2 separate regions of the Homo sapiens genome follow, and region 1 is linked to region 2. Evidence: fine-mapped expression QTL. A gene starts in region 2. The other region holds a variant in brackets. All regions are shown on one strand. Distances are from middle to middle.

Region 1 (2,893 bases), 30 kb before region 2:
CCGGCCGGCCCTGGAAGATCTGCGGCCACCTGTGTTTACTCTGGAGGATGCAGCTGAGGAGGTCCTGGCAGGGCCACACTCGTAACCCCTGGCTTCTCAGCTGTGGGCGCGGTCTTGCACCCTGGCTAGCTGAGTTGAGGGGACTTTGCGGCATCTGTGGCCCCGACCAGGGCAGAGTACCCGAGCCCCAGCCCAAGGAGAGGCCTCGCTGGGCAACGCGACCAGGACAGAGGCCGAGGCTGGATGGGTGGGGAGCGCCTGGGGCCTTCCAGATCCTCCTTCCTGCCCCTCCCGCCTCCACCTCCCTTCAGCCCCTTGGCTGCAGCCAGCTCTCCTGGGATCACTCATCCACTGTCTACCTCCACTGGGAACCTCGGTGAGGGAGGCTCAGATCCTTGGGGAGGGAGGAGGGGGTGGGCCCCAGAGAGACCTTCCGAGGAGGACAGGGTGGGGCCAGATCTTGGTTCTTCTCCTCGGGTGGTTCTGACCTGGCCAGCGTGGTGCAGTGTGGCCATCAGGGCAGGGCTAGCGGCACCAGCATCTAGCAGGGAGGGTGCGGAGGGCAGGGAGGCCAGAGAAGGAGGGGCTGTGAGTGCTGGGGGTGGGGACCCACCCTGGCCCTGAGGGAAAGGAGTGTGTACACCCACAGAGGCCAACTTGATGGGGTGGCCTGGGTTTCAGCTCCCAAGGCTGTGGGAAGGTCCTCTGGGTGGGGGCTGGGAGGAGACCTCAAGGGGAGGCCCAGGGGTTTGGGCTGTGCCCCCTCAAAAGCCTCCTCTTTGAGGACCCCAGAGATTGGCCAGGCCTGTGGGATGGACACAGAGGTCTTTCCCCTCAGCCCACAGTGGGAGAGGGAGACGCCAGCTCACCTCAGAGTAGGAAACCAGGAAAAAGCGCCAAGCCCTTCCCAGGCCCCTGAAACCAGGGAGCAGGCCCCACACAGCCAGTCCAAGGAGCTGGAAACTTCTGACAGGCTGCTGTGGGCCCAGGAAGCAGGGCCTTGCGCGAACAAGGGGCCTCCTCTCTCCTCCCGGCCCCGCTCTGGGTGCGGAGGGCCTGGCACGCACCTGTCTCTGGCCACCTGCTCCCGAGGACTCCCCAAGCCGTCTGGGCCGCTGGGGCTTCCATTCCTGCAACGTCAGCTGGTCTCACAGTGCCACAGCTGGGGAGCCTGGGGCCGGTGGGGCCACAGGAGGGCCGTGACCCCCTTAGACCTGAGGACTCTGAGCTGGGACAGTCAGCCAGGGAGAGGGTGGAAGAGTCTGGGGTGACCCAGGCCGCGGGGGCAGCCCTGCTGCAGGCTGGACTGATGGAGGCCTGCCGGGAACAGGG[T/C]GTGTGCTGAGCCCTGCGGGGAGGAGATCTGGGCCCAGTCAGTGCTGGGCGTCTGTGATGCCACAAGGTTGCAGGAGCCCCTGCCTGCGTCTGCACCGAAGAGCGCCGGGCACAGGGAACTGGGCTGGCATCCTGGGGCTGCTGGACGGGGCGTCTTCCCTCGCAGCCCTGGAGGCCACGCTCCTGACTCTGGGTAGAGCCCTTCCTTGCCTGGTGGGGTGGGGGTGGAGGGTCCTCAATCCTTGGCCTGCAGAGGCATCGCCTGGGTGTCAGTCTCTAGCCACACAGTGGCTTTTTCCCAGGTCTTTTCTGGTAAGGACACCAGTTCCGTGGGAGTAAGGCCACCTCAGGACCTTGCCTTAACGCAATTCCACCTGCAGAGACCCGACTTCCAGACAAGGTCAGTTTGTAGCTGCTGGGTTAGGGCTTGGAATATCTTTTAGGGGGCACAGTTCAGTCCCGTAACAGGAGCCTTGACAGCCAGGATCCCAGCCAGACACAGGTGGGCAGGTGGGAACCTGGAGGCCTCAGGGGCGGGGGTGCCTCCGGATGCAGGTAGCACTTTGCATCTTGGGGGTGACCAACCAGGCCACAGGCCCGGCGGGTACCCAGGGCTGGCCCAGAGAGCTGGAGCCAACGTCAGGTGCCTGCATGCCAGCCTCAGGGGGCAGAGAGGCAGGACCATAGTCCCCAGGAAGAGGGCAGAAGGGGGTGCTCTCCTCCTGGGGGATCCTGAAGGGACCAGAGCCCATCCTCTTGGCTTGACCTGCATTCCCTGCCGGCCCTGTGCCTCCTGGGGGCTGTGTGCGTGTGGCTGCGCCGTGCCCGTCCAGCCCTGACACTGTCCCCTCCATGGTAGGTTCTCGGGGCCACTAGAGGAGAAACATCCGTGTGGCTGAGGAAGAGTTGGCTGTTTTGTATCCCAAGTTCCCACATGGAAATGAATTCGGTGACCCCCCATCTCCCGAGGGCCTCCTGGTTTGGCCCTGGTCTCCGGGAACCGAGTACCTGGGTGGGTGGGGAGCTGTACAAGCTAAGACCAGGGAAGGACGCCTGGGGGACGGATGCCACGGCCCGTGCACGGTCGATTGGAGCCGCAGGGCAGGGAGGATCTACAGGGCAAGTTCCAGGTGAGACCAGAGAGAGCTGCAGCTGCCCCGGCTCTGGAAGCCCCCAGCCCTCCCGAGGCCCAGCCTTCAGCCCACGTATCCTCTGAACCCGTTCACCACGGTACGGCTGGGGAGGGTCAGCCTGGGGCAGGCTTTGTTCTGATATGAAATTTAATGTCTTAGGCTGAAAAACACTAAATTTCCATTTTTTTGTAGGTCAGAAGTGGTTGCAAACTGGATTTTTAGACTCTTCCTGTTGGGGGTCTCGGACATTTGCTCTTTTCCACAGCGGCCAATTCTTCAGAGCCACAAAGAACTGGGCGACGCAGGCCAGAGGTGTGGGAGTCCAGCCCTTGGTTCGAATCCCGCTCTCCACTGTCCATGGGGTTCTCAGCAAGCCCTCTGGCCTCTCCAAGCACACGCAGGGTTCCTCAAGCAATTCCAAACTCCAG
Region 2 (2,893 bases):
ATTTTTTTTGTATTTTTAGTAGAGACGGGCTTTCTCCATGTGGGTCAGGCTGGTCTCGAACCCCTGACCTCAGGTGATCCGAGGCCCACCTCGGCCTCCCAAAATGCTGGGATTACGGGCGTGAGCCACTGATGGCGCCTCTTTCTATCCAGGGGCCCAGACCCCCTCCCAGCCTCGGGGCTGAAGATCTCCAGGCCTCTCAAAGGCCCCCAGGCCCAGCTGGCCCCACCCCTTTCCTTCCGAGCGTCGGGGCGGCCTGGAGCTGCAGAGACCCCTTCCTTCTCTGCAGTGTCTGAGGGCTGCCTCTCCAAGGCAGGCTCCTACATCTTGGATTTGAGAACTCCGGGGTGTCACAAACAGCTAATTCCTGTCATTTACCTTGGAAAAGGAGGAACCGCCTTACGGGGTGAGGCGGTGGCTGCAGGTCTCAAAAGGGTGTTGAACCACATCCACGCTCACGTTCCCGAGAGCCCCCACCCCCAGCATTCATGGGGGTCTCCACCTGTGCTGGACGGCGCAGAAGCAGGGCTGGGCAATCCAGGGAGGCTTCCTGGTGGAGGCAGGGTCCCAGAACCCCTCGGTGCCCACAGGGGAAACTGAGGCTCAGAAAGACATAGGACAGTCTCCCAAGAGCTCTGCGAGGGGCTCCTCCTCAACTCCCTCCGGGACCTGGATCTGTCTGGTGTGACGGATGAAGGTGGCTCTGAGAGACCGGGCCCTGGGTGCCCGCGGGGGCGGCTGACACTGTCCCGAGGAGGCGCCAGCACCCTCTCGTCTCCCCACCAGCTCCTCCTGGTGCCCCTCCCAAGCCCCGGGGAACTTCCCAGGTTGGCCTGAGGGGGGTCCTGGAGAGCTGCAAGCAAGGGGGAGGGGAGCCCACAGGCCTGCAGCCCATGGTGAGTTTCACACCTGAAGCCAGCCAGGTGGGGTGTGCTGAGCCGAGGGGTCCCTGTCCCCATTCTGTGGGGTTCCCCAGCACGGGGCTCCATGGTTGAGGCTCTCTGGGGGTGGCCAGAATTTGTGGAGACCTCTCGGGGACTCGCAGATACCACCCGGAGGCAGTGGGATGGAGGAGTGATTGGCTGACCCCCGCCCTCCAAGGGGCCCCCATGGGACAAGGTGCTATAAACGCCGCCCCCTGCACTGGGGACACCAATGTGGCCGCAGACTTTGCATAGAAAACCTTTCTGATCCCCGCCAGCCTGGTTTCCCCGCCCCTGCCGGCGACCTGCGGGGGACCGGGCTGTGTCCGCAGTGTCTACACCCCCTCCTCACACGCACTTCACCTGGGTCGGGATTCTCAGGTCATGAACGGTCCCAGCCACCTCCGGGCAGGGCGGGTGAGGACGGGGACGGGGCGTGTCCAACTGGCTGTGGGCTCTTGAAACCCGAGCATGGCACAGCACGGGGCGATGGGCGCGTTTCGGGCCCTGTGCGGCCTGGCGCTGCTGTGCGCGCTCAGCCTGGGTCAGCGCCCCACCGGGGGTCCCGGGTGCGGCCCTGGGCGCCTCCTGCTTGGGACGGGAACGGACGCGCGCTGCTGCCGGGTTCACACGACGCGCTGCTGCCGCGATTACCCGGGTAAGTAAACCGCGTTTACTTAACGCGGACCGGCCAAGGCGTCCCGCGGAAGCCGGGATGGGTGGGCGCCCCCCTTCCCGTGCTCAGACCGGCGTTGCTGAGGTCTAAGGAGGGTGGGCACAGAGCCGCCAGCAGCGGGAGCCTTCCGGAGGGAGGCAGGATCCCAGAGGGAGGCGGAGGTGTGCCAGCTCCAGCCAGTGGCCCCGGCCGGGAGCAGGGGTGAGCCAGGTGGGAGCGCCCTCAAGAGGGGTCTGGGGTCTGGAGGTGGAGGACGGCTGTTCCAGGTCCTGCTGGGCGGGTCGTGAGCCCTTGGCCATCGCCCAGCCCCCTCCTGCCCAGTTGAGGGCCCCCCTGCACCACCGTCTGGCCTGCTGCCTGCCTCTGACCTGCACCTGGGGATGAGGGTTCAGCTGACACGGCTGGTCTGGAGAGGAAGCTGGCAGGGAAGTCACCCCAGAGCTTCTTCCTCCAGGGCCTGTGGGTTGGGAAGGGAGGCTCTGTCCGGAGGCCCAGTGTGGCTGGTGGTGGGGACAGCAGCGCCCAGACACCAGGCAGGCGGCCTCTGAGGTGTCGACGGGCCTCCAGGGGACTGTGCACTGTTGGGGGCCACCCCTGGGTCCTGCAGGGGCAGCTCCTGGTTGCATATGGAGTTAGCACCTGGGCAGGGGCAGCTGTGGGGCGCAAAGGGGGAGTAGCCAGGCCACATGGCCCCAGGAGAAAGAGACAGCTGGATAAACCCAGGGTCCAGACTCCCAGCCAGGAGCCCTCTGCTCCCTGGAGCCAACTGTGGGTGGAGAACGGACAACCTCACTCCCCTGGAGGGCCGAGGGGAGGCCTGGGGAGGAGGGGGCCTCAGCCCAGCTGCTGGGGGGCTGGCCTGTCTCCTGCCCAGGCGAGGAGTGCTGTTCCGAGTGGGACTGCATGTGTGTCCAGCCTGAATTCCACTGCGGAGACCCTTGCTGCACGACCTGCCGGCACCACCCTTGTCCCCCAGGCCAGGGGGTACAGTCCCAGGGTAAGTCCTGGAGGTGCCTCTGGGAGTCCACACAGGCCAGGGGTTCCACTAGGGCCCGAGGCAGAGCTCGTGGGCACAGGTGTCCGGCGAGGACATGTGGTGTGTGGGGTCCGGAGTCCTGTGAGGCCGGGCAGGCCAGGCCATGCTCAGGCACCACAGGCCATGAAGCTCTGGGGGTGTCCTGTCCCTGCTTTCTCAGCCTGGGCTTCTCCATCCAGCACGAGGGCTGTGAGAACCCTGCGGGGAGGTGGGGGCGGGTTCCAGGAGCTGTCTGGCTCTCAGGCCCGGGACACCCAT

What was found. PIP is the estimated chance that this variant, and not a neighbour inherited with it, causes the effect.
Region 1: its variant is fine-mapped to the expression of TNFRSF18 in whole blood (TOPMed, PIP above 0.99).

Annotation. Positions count from the first base shown.
Region 1 is chr1:1,234,743-1,237,635 of GRCh38, reverse strand. B3GALT6 (beta-1,3-galactosyltransferase 6) reads right to left here. Exons shown (of 1, transcript NM_080605.4): 1 at 2,595-2,893. Among named protein-coding and RNA genes, the nearest start is that of B3GALT6, 4.0 kb to the right of the region's middle. The variant T/C (reference allele first, on the strand shown) is at 1,333.
Region 2 is chr1:1,205,073-1,207,965 of GRCh38, reverse strand. It overlaps TNFRSF18 (TNF receptor superfamily member 18), which reads left to right and starts at 1,374. Exons shown (of 5, transcript NM_004195.3): 1 at 1,374-1,581; 2 at 2,474-2,596. The coding sequence starts at 1,395. RefSeq lists a silencer at 2,591-2,791.